Regions from separate parts of the Homo sapiens genome. Here regions 1 and 3 are each reported to be linked to region 2. Evidence: microRNA targets listed by miRTarBase, many of them from high-throughput screens and not tested one by one. Region 2 holds a microRNA gene; each other region holds the end of a gene's coding sequence.
Evidence for each region. The annotated mature microRNA hsa-miR-6784-3p reads UCUCACCCCAACUCUGCCCCAG and lies in region 2 at 2,136-2,157, shown strand. An mRNA with a match to its seed (bases 2 to 7 or 8) in the 3' UTR can be bound and repressed. Matches are read on the target gene's strand: a 7mer-m8 pairs with bases 2 to 8, a 7mer-A1 pairs with bases 2 to 7 and ends in A, and an 8mer does both.

Region 1: miRTarBase lists TRAF7 as a target of hsa-miR-6784-3p. Seed matches in the 3' UTR shown: 8mer at 1,271-1,278.
Region 3: the mRNA of JAKMIP2 is a reported target of hsa-miR-6784-3p. The part of its 3' UTR that is shown has no 7-base or 8-base seed match.

Annotation. Positions count from the first base shown.
Region 1 is chr16:2,176,052-2,179,299 of GRCh38, forward strand. It overlaps TRAF7 (TNF receptor associated factor 7), which reads left to right. Exons shown (of 21, transcript NM_032271.3): 19 at 1-129; 20 at 214-333; 21 at 509-2,078. The coding sequence ends at 523. CASKIN1 (CASK interacting protein 1) reads right to left here. Exons shown (of 20, transcript NM_020764.4): 19 at 2,851-3,248; 20 at 1,129-2,595. The coding sequence ends at 2,499. Among named protein-coding and RNA genes, the nearest start is that of CASKIN1, 19 kb to the right of the region's middle. RefSeq lists an enhancer at 1,777-2,278.
Region 2 is chr17:45,113,292-45,116,523 of GRCh38, reverse strand. MIR6784 (microRNA 6784) reads left to right here and starts at 2,091; the gene lies at 2,091-2,157. PLCD3 (phospholipase C delta 3) reads left to right here. Exons shown (of 15, transcript NM_133373.5): 9 at 1,034-1,180; 10 at 1,280-1,430; 11 at 2,158-2,274; 12 at 2,919-3,085. RefSeq lists enhancers at 1,132-1,997, 2,864-3,232.
Region 3 is chr5:147,599,195-147,602,442 of GRCh38, reverse strand. JAKMIP2 (janus kinase and microtubule interacting protein 2) reads left to right here. Exons shown (of 22, transcript NM_001270941.2): 21 at 632-702. The coding sequence ends at 682. All of the region lies in intron 3 of JAKMIP2-AS1 (JAKMIP2 antisense RNA 1), which reads right to left. Among named protein-coding and RNA genes, the nearest start is that of JAKMIP2-AS1, 41 kb to the right of the region's middle.

The sequences.
Region 1 (3,248 bases), not on the chromosome of region 2:
TGGGACATTGAGTCCAAGGAGCAGGTGCGGACCCTCACGGGCCACGTGGGCACCGTGTATGCCCTGGCGGTCATCTCGACGCCAGACCAGACCAAAGTCTTCAGTGCATCCTACGACCGGTCCCTCAGGGTGCGTGCTGGCCCAGCGGTGGCAGGAGGCTCAGAGGGCTGGCAGCTGAGCTCCGGCGGGCCCTCACGTCCCATGTGCCCCCAGGTCTGGAGTATGGACAACATGATCTGCACGCAGACCCTGCTGCGTCACCAGGGCAGTGTCACCGCGCTGGCTGTGTCCCGGGGCCGACTCTTCTCAGGGGCTGTGGATAGCACTGTGAAGGTCAGTGCCCGTGGCTCAGGCCATTCAAAGGGGCTGCACAGGATGGAGCGGGGGTGGGGACGAGGAGCTGGCAGCCCCAGCACAAAGTGGTGGAGGGCAGGTACGTGTGGCAGGTGTGGCTGGGGCAGGGCAGCCGGCCGCAGGACATCCTGGTGAAGCAGCCCTTTCTCTGCAGGTTTGGACTTGCTAACAGGATCCAGGCCAGGCTGTGGTTTCCCCTGAACCAGCCCTGGACCTTTCTGAGCCAGGCTGGCCACATGGGGTGGTCTCGGGGTTTCTGCCTGCCCCGTGGGCATAGGTGGACAGGCTCTGGCAGCCGGGCAGTGCCCTCCCCGTCCCATGCTCGGCGAGCCTCCCTCTACTCGGCACTGTCCTTGCTGCCCAGCCCCTCTCTGGGTGCCAGGTACGACGCTTGCCCCGGCCCACCCTCCATCCCCACCCTCCATCCCCACCCTAGATGGAGCGAGGGCCTTTTTACTCACCTTTTCTACCGTTTTTAGACTGTATGTAGATTTGGTTACCTCCTGGTTGAAATAAATGCTCCACAGACTGTGGCTGTGAGTGGGGACAGCTCCTCGGGACAAGGGGGCTGTGTGTGGCCTTGAGGTTGGTGTGCACAGGCACTGGCTGCTGTGAGTGGGGGGGCATGGGGCAGTTTCCTTTGGTGGACCCCAGGACTTCGGCCCACTCCGGGGCCTCCCCTCCCTGCTAGGAGGCAACTCGTCACACCCAAGCTGCTGGCCTCCAGTCCCATCTCCCCCAACACATGTGCCCCCAAAAAGTGAGCCAGGCACCTCTGTTTCCTGCTGTTTATTGACAGCCGACGGCAGCGCCTTGCCCAGACCTCCCCTGCCCACCTGCTGGAGCCCAGCCTGTGCCGCCCTCTGAGGAGAGGCCTGGGGGGACAGCTGGGCACGTCCACTCGCAGGGAAACACGGGGTGAGACAGCAGGAAGGGGCCCTGCACGCCGGGACGCCACCTCCGCCAGCCGCCTCCACCCGCCCCACACCACAATCGCTGGTTTTCGGCATTTTTTAAATTTTTTTTTTAAGAAACGTCAAAGTTGTGCCCAACACTGTGGATCAGCAAACACGATAGAGGAGACCAGTCAGTACTTCTTGGAGGGGGCAGGAGGAGAGAGGAAAAGGGAGGGCGAGAATGACCACACAACACAGCCTTGGACCATGAGCAGAAGCGTCCGTGGGAACTCCACTGGGGTGGATGGGCTGCCTGCACAGCCCCTGGAGAGGGGGCCAGGCACACCCTCAGAGGAGCTGCAAGCCCGTGGCCTGGCCTGCTACATGCCCTGCTTCCACGTGGCTGCCACGCTGACACACCCACATTCACCAAACCCACCCGCGCCCTGGGACGCAGCCACGCCAGGAGGAGGACACGGCCGCCGAGAGCAAGGCACAACCTCGAGTTCTTGGGGCGCAGAGAACTTAGGAGAGAAGCACGGAGGAGCCCCCGGCAGAGCACCCGCCCCCGGGCCCCAGCCTTCCACCTGTGCTAGCAGCCTGGGGCCTCCACTCTGGCCGGAGGAAGGACCGCAGGCAGACAGCCTGGGCCTCTAACAGCTTTTGTCCGGAGCTAGACTTCGTGTCCTTTCAGTTGGTAAATGGTTTTCTATAGAATCAATAATATTTCTTTCTTTAAATATATATTTGTTAAAGTTATACCTTTTTGTTTCTCTGGGGAAATCCGCCTCAGCTCATTCCCAATAAATTAATACTCTTGATAGCTTATATTCTGGGGGTGCGGTGGGGCAGGGGGGCCCTGACCTTGGTCCCCTGTCCCTTGTGCTGCGCCCGAGCGGCTGGCCGGGCGTCCCGATGGGCAGTTCTGTGCTGGGCCCGGGCCTGTGCGCTGCCCCATCCCTGGTCCCGGGGCGCCCTCCCCTCCCGCGCGGGCAGGAGGCCCAGCAGGTATTGCACGGGGAGCAGCAGGTGGGGAGGACCCGCGGGCGCAGGGTCTGCCTAGAGCCCTTGGAGCCCCCGGCCAGGCGGTCCCCGGTGGGCGCCCCGGCCCGGGTCCAGGGGCCGGAGTTGTGCTTCTGCAGGGCCCTGCCCGGCCGCTCGCGCCGCGCCCAGACGCGCCCATCCTGAGGTATAGGTCAGTGTGCGGGGAGGGCCCGGGCGGCGCGGGAGGGCCCGGCCAGGCGGCGTTCACTCCAGCATGGCATCCAGCTGGTCGGCCAGGTCGTCGAACATGCTGCCGATGTCGTCCAGGATGCTGCCAGTGCTCTTTTCCGCCGCCGAGTCGCTGCGGGGCGCGGGGCAAGGGGCGTGAGTGGGCGGGGCGGGTCTGGCCACGCCCACCCCGACCAGGACACGCCCACGTCCCGCATCTCCGTCGGCTTCCGCCTACCGCACGACGACCTCGGCGGAGCCCCGCTCACGGCACGCCCATCTCTGCCGAGCCCCGCCCATCTCTGCCGAGCCCCGCCCATCTCTGCCGAGCCCCGCCCATCTCTGCCGAGCCCCGCCCTCCGCCCGCCAGGCCCCGCCCCGCACCTACCGCGGGCCCTGCGCGTCCTCCTGCCGGATCTTCTCCTCCACCGCCTGCAGCGCCGCGGCCAGGCACGCGCTTGTCTCCTCCAGTTTCTGCCGGGCGCTGTCCCCTGGCGAGGCGCCTTCGGGCGGGGCGGGGGGCGCGGCGGCGGCGGCGGCGGCGGCGGCGGCGGCTCGCGGGGGCTTGGCGGGCACGTGCAGCGCGGGCGCGCCGGGGGACGGGGGCTTGGCGGGGCTGGCGCCCAGCGAGGGCGGCGTACCGGGCGGCTTGGCGAGGGCGGCGGGCGGCTGTCGCGCGGGCGAGGGTGCGGGTGAAGGGCCGGCGCTGCCCGAAGGCAGCCCCGCGACCGCCTTGACGGGCTTGGGCGCTGTGGGCGGCGGCGGCGGCTTGGGAGACACGGGCGG
Region 2 (3,232 bases):
CTTAACTTTTCTCTGTTCCTCTGTTCATCTGAGGTCTGCCATCCCCTGGTCTTGTCCTTCTGCTGCCCTCTGGCTCTCCATTCTTGACTAGACCCCCCCACACACACACCCTCTTCTGTAACCTGGCTTTGCCCTGCTGGCCCTGTGTCCCTGCCCGTAGAGTCCTGCAGGCTCTGCCATTCCCACCTGCAAGGCCCCGCTTGACACTTTCTCCACCTGGAAGTCCCTTCTCGGCCATCCACACTTGCCAAGCGTCACCTGCTTAGAATTCAGCTCAACTTCAGCCGCCTCTTCCTGTGGCCTTATCCACTTCCCCAACTCTCGGGCCTGAGGCGGCCTCCTGCTCTCCCCCAGACACCAGAGCGCGTCCTCGGCTCTCTCCAGACATTTATCCTGTCGGGCTCCTTGAGAAAACTCTCCTCCTACTTCCAATCCCCAACATGCAGGCAGGGTTGACTCACCCTCGTGTGTGTGTGAGATGTGATTTTTGTTATTACTGTGAAAATCACACCCGTATGGTAAAAGAAAACTGAGCTGTACTAAGGGACGCGATGAGCAGTGCTCCCCTCCCTCCACTGACCTGTCCTCTTTCACAAGAAGTAACCATCTCTAACTTTCTTGCATGTCCTTCAAGAATTTCCCCACACACATTACCTGTGTACATATGTGTACTGTCTTCTCTTTTAAATGGTACCAAAAAAGGACATGTGATTCCAGGTTGTAGCCTCACTTCTTCCACGTAAGATCTTCTTTGAAGAGGGTCCCTTTCCTTTCAGTCCTGAGCTGTCGCGTGCATTGTAGTGGCTGCTGTGTATATTCTGATGTTGAGGGACCTTATTAAGCATCCCTTCCTGATGGCCTCCCGGGCCATTCTCCACTCTTTCCTATTAGAAACATCGCTCATCTCTGTGTCTCCTTTCCTGCCTCCCACCCCTAGCCAGCCCCTCACAAGGCGGTGGTTGAATAACTGACTGACTGGCTGCCACAGGGGCGAGAAGGCCTAACCCTTCATCCTCCACGTTGGCCCCCACAGCAGCTGAAGGGCCGGGTCCTGGTGAAGGGAAAGAAGTTGCCCGCTGCTCGGAGCGAGGATGGCCGGGCTCTGTCGGATCGGGAGGAGGAGGAGGAGGATGACGAGGAGGAAGAAGAGGAGGTGGAGGCTGCAGCGCAGAGGCGGCTGGTGAGAGCTGGGATGGGTGGGGTGGGGAAGGGGGGGAAGGTGGGAGGACGGATGTGGGAAGCGGGGGCCAGCTGAACCCCGCTGAGCCTGGTCTCCTAGGCCAAGCAGATCTCCCCGGAGCTGTCGGCCCTGGCTGTGTACTGCCACGCCACCCGCCTGCGGACCCTGCACCCTGCCCCCAACGCCCCACAACCCTGCCAGGTCAGCTCCCTCAGCGAGCGCAAAGCCAAGAAACTCATTCGGGAGGCAGGTAGGAGCTGGGGCACTGGGTGTCTGGGGGCGAGAGGGTGAGAGACCTCCTGAAGGGAGTCTGGAAAGGAGTTGAGGGGGCTTTGGGGGACAGTAAAGAGGTCAAGAGGACCCCAAAGAGGGGCTGGGCTGAGGGAATGAGGGCCCCGCACATGCCAGGGTGGATGGAGGGGAGTGGCACGCTGAGGGCGGCCTGCTGTCTGCCTTCAGAGCCCTGTGGTGGGGCCGGCCATAGAGGGTGATGGGTCAGGCTGGGCTGGGGGCTGGGGGAGCCCAGCAGCTGCTGCAACACTGGGGAGGAATTCCTGGGGCAGGTGATGCTGAGAGGACACATCACCTGGAGGACTAGGAAGCAGCCAGGTGAAGAGGGGAGAGCGCTTTCCAGACAGGAGGAACAGGTTGTTGAAGGCCTGGGGCCTTGGCCTGGAGAAGAATTCCAGGAACCACAGTGGAGCTGGAGGGCCGTGGGCATTCAGTGTACTTGGTTGGAACTTTGTCAGGAGCTGGGAATTGGGGGCTGGGGATGCAGGGCCAGGCTGTGTGGCTGGAGGGGGTCCCTGCAGCCTCCTCAGTGAGCTCCCCTCTCACTCTAGGTCAGAAGAGAGTGAGGAGCGGGGGCAGGGTGACCTGGGGACGGGCTTGGGCTCTGTTCCCTGGAGGTTACAGGCCGGGGCTTTGGGTGAGGGACCCCCGGAGTCTGTCACGGTCTCACCCCAACTCTGCCCCAGGGAACAGCTTTGTCAGGCACAATGCCCGCCAGCTGACCCGCGTGTACCCGCTGGGGCTGCGGATGAACTCAGCCAACTACAGTCCCCAGGAGATGTGGAACTCGGGCTGTCAGCTGGGTAAGTGGGGGCCACAGGAATGAGAGCAGGCGGGGTGCCACAGTGTGGGGGAGGCCTCAGCAGTGAGGGGCCCACACAGCCTTCCAGACGGTGGAAACACGCATTTTGTTGATTATTTTTAAAGTTGCCAGCAATGTAGGTGGGAAAATCAAATCAGGCTCGTTTGTTCTTGACAGTGTACAGGTCTCGCATTTTTATCATGGTAGAAATTAAAATCTCCACTCCCATGTCCCCCGGACACACACAACCCCCACACACCTGGCAGTCCCACTAAGTCAACACTGACAAGGGTGGGCTCTGGGGGACGCTGAGCCCCACCAAAGGAGGGCTGTATCGTCTCCTTGGGGTAAGGATGGAAACCCCAGGCTTCCTCAGACCCCTGGCTCTGACCCAAGCCTGGCCCTGAGGGTGGGGGCTTTTTTAGTACCTCCCACCCCAGTCTTGAGGGATCCCAGGGCAGAAGTACAGGTGACAGTGGGGGCTGGGTCCATGACCCCCTCCCCTAAAGTCATGGTGGGAGCAGAGCAGCACTAAGCAGACAGTGGGACCCCAGGCCCTTTGTAGAGAGGAATGCAGTCCCCTGAAACTGAGTAGTGAGAACAGGGCCGCTAAGAGCCCCTGCTCTGACCCTGCTGTGTCCACAGTGGCCTTGAACTTCCAGACGCCAGGCTACGAGATGGACCTCAATGCCGGGCGCTTCCTAGTCAATGGGCAGTGTGGCTACGTCCTAAAACCTGCCTGCCTGCGGCAACCTGACTCGACCTTTGACCCCGAGTACCCAGGACCTCCCAGAACCACTCTCAGCATCCAGGTCAGCAGGCTGGAACGGGCCCCAGTGTGGGGTCAGACTGGTTCTAGAAAGGCTCTTTGTGAGGTGGAGGAAGGCAAGGGAGGCTGGGGACATTTGGAAGTGAGGGTGGTGTGAGCTTGAGGCCCATGAGGGGATGGCCAAGGTGGG
Region 3 (3,248 bases), not on the chromosome of region 2:
ACCAGATGTCCCCACTTGCCTAGGACAGACCCAGTTTTTACCCATCAACCCAATGTAATTATTAACAGTGTCCATTTCTCTCTCTGAAATGTTCCACTGTGAGTAATTAAGTATATATTTAGCCTACAGATTAATATTCTCCCAGCTGTGCCTTAATCCTAAAACCTATCATAGTAACCAAAAAAGATAGTACTGCATGATTAAGTGTATGTTCTGATCGTATTTTGTGTTTTTGAAATACCCTCTTGTGCATGAAAGAGACAGTGATATATAATAAAGTAGGATTCAGGCTAGCTAAGCTTTAGCCCTCACTGTGCCATAAAATTGTATGAAATTAAACTATTGATTTACTGCTCTGTGCTTATTTTTCTTATCTGTAAAATTAGGAGCTTAGACCAATTGTTCGTAAGACCACCTCATGATTCTAAAATGTATGAATCAATGTTAGTTGAACACTGATACTCTGTCAGTAGCTACATAAAAGGTGTGGATTTTTTTAAACAAAAAGGTGCTTGATGTTCATGTGTGAAGTGATTAGACTTGAGCAATATGGAAAAGCTGAGGTTTTGTACTACCTGAATGGCACTACAGAAATTCAGATTTACATAATCTTCTTCTTTTTCTTCTGCAGTTTCTGTTTCTATTCTTGTTCTTCTCTCTTGCCTTTATTCTATGGCCTTGATGTCAAGGTGCCTCTTAAAGGTAAGATTCCATTTAATTCTCAAAATGTGGTTCTAAGAGGTATTTGATAAAAAGGATGTTACCTATAGTTACTATGCCTTTCTTTAGTTTTTTGTTTTGTTTTGTTTTGTTTTGTTTTGTTTTGTTTTGTTTTGTTTTGAGACAGAGTCTTGTTCTGTCACCCAGGCTGGAATACAGTGGCACAATCAGATCATTCACTGGCAGCCTCAATCTCCCAGGCTCAAAGCGATCCTCCAACCTCAGCCTCCTGAGTAGCTGGGACTACAGGCATGTGTCACCATGCTCAGCTAATTTTTTTTTATTATTATTTTTAGTAGAGACAAGGTCTCACTTTGTTGCCCAGGGTAGTCTTGAACTTCAGAGCTCAAGCAATCCTCCTGCCTTAGCCTCCCAAAGTGTTGACCAAGCCATCAGGCCTGGTCTATATATTTTAACTATGCTATATTTTTAAAATACAAACACACTTGCTTTGGTTAGCATAAATGCCATAAATTGAGAAATAGATCCAGTCTATTTGGGTGATTATTAGAAAAGTGAAGAAACCAAATATTCTGGGAATCAAGAATCTGTTCCAGTTAACTGTATTACTTTGGGAAGTCACAATGTCTGTGGTTGTTAGCATTCTCATCATAGTCTCCCATTATGCAGAAAGTTGCATCTGTATCTGCAAAGTGAATAAATAATGACGTTATCTTTAGTGTTGCGTTCAGCTTGAAAATTCTGATTCTGCTAATCTAACAAGCTAGTAATGACTGCTGTTTTTTTCACCCCTTTTCCCCAGTAGAGACTAGGGAGTTCATTAAAACTCAAGAAAGCAGGCTAAGTGGATCTTGTTTTCAAATAAGTTACTTTTCAATGTCAATATAGAAAACAAAAAGGAGAGTCTTATAATTACTATTATTAAGTCCATGTCTCATGAATACATGCATAAATAATCTTAGTGATTCCCAGTGCTTAAAAATATAGATTTTTAAGCCCCACCTCAGACTTGCTGAGTCAGATCACTGGAGATAGAGGGAGATAGAGAGAGGGTGGGAGAGATGAGAGCAAGGACTGGTCTGTATTTAACAAGCACGCTATGTGATTCTGATGGCCGGCCAAATAGGGAAACCACAAATCTCAATACCACTGTTCAAAAAGAAGAAGGGCCAGCGGCTATTCTAAATCCATTTATCATGGTTCATGTCAACTCTGATTATCCTATTAAATTATATTAGCCTGAGATCTTTCCTGGACCTCAGGTGATTTAACATTTTCTACAGCAAGTTGGAAAACAGAAGAGAGGCACTTTCTCCCTCCATAGGTATGAGATCTGTTACCTGGATATGGAACAGACAAGTAAAAGTGCTTTAGAATAACCTGATACAAGCAAAGAGTTAAGTAGATATGCTCAGAAAATATATGAACTCATAACTCACTCTCTGGCTATATTCTTTCTTCCAAAATATTTTCTTTTCAGATTGACCACTATCCTTTGTCTGTCAAGAAAGATGACAGCCTTGTAGGATGGAAAGAAGAGGACTAAGTCTCTTAAATTGAATGGGAATATCCAAATTGAAGTGGAGGGAGATTCACTAGTAAAGGATCAAAATGACCAGAGTATCAGGAAACAAACAGCCTCCCCCCACCAAAAAAAAAAAAAAAAAAAAAAAACAGTAAATAAATTTTAAAAGTAGGGAAAATAAATTTCAGTAAGAGACAAGTAATACATGGTGGTTTACAGAAGAAATATCAAACCTTGTAAGTACTAGGTAGAAAATGGATAGGCTTCAGCATTAACATCAATGCTGGCCAAAGCTGATTATGTCCTGGGAGCTGTTCTAAGTAATAGATACATTTAATCCTCATGAAATCCCCTGTGGGATAGGTATTGCTTTTATCCCTAATTTGTAGTTGGAGAAACTACAGCATGTGACTTTCCCAAGACCATCCAGCTACCAATTTGTACCCAGGCAGCCTCAGCCCAGAATCCACTTCTAACCACCAAACTGCCTCACAAGTAAAAAAGGGCCTTTCTCCCATGTTTCAAGCAACATTGGCGTTCATATGTATCCTCATCAGAAGCGTCATCTATTTGTATAGTACTACTTAGCTACTGGCTTTTGAAATTACAGTGTGCTCGTCTCTGTACCTTTTCCCATTTTGTGTAACTCCTTGAGGGATGTACAAGATTTGATGTTTTTCCTCCAAAGTAGCACATAAATGACACTTAGTAATTGTCTGTTAAGTGAATGACTATAATGATAATTAATAATATAGCCGATGAATGTGACAGTGAATCTGGGCAATAAATATATTGCATATGCAGTAAAATGGCTGAGAGGTTAGAGTGCACAGCTTACAAGTCAGATATAATTTAAAGCTTGAGTCCTGCCATTTACTAGTTGTGTGATGATAGGCAGTTTATTTAATCCACCCAAGATTAGGTTTCCTATTCCACAAAATGGTTATAATCATGTTACCTACAGCAGGGTGTTGTGTTGAGAGAATGAGACGAGGTTATGCATGTCAAAGGCATAACAGTGCCTGGAAAATCATTAATCAGT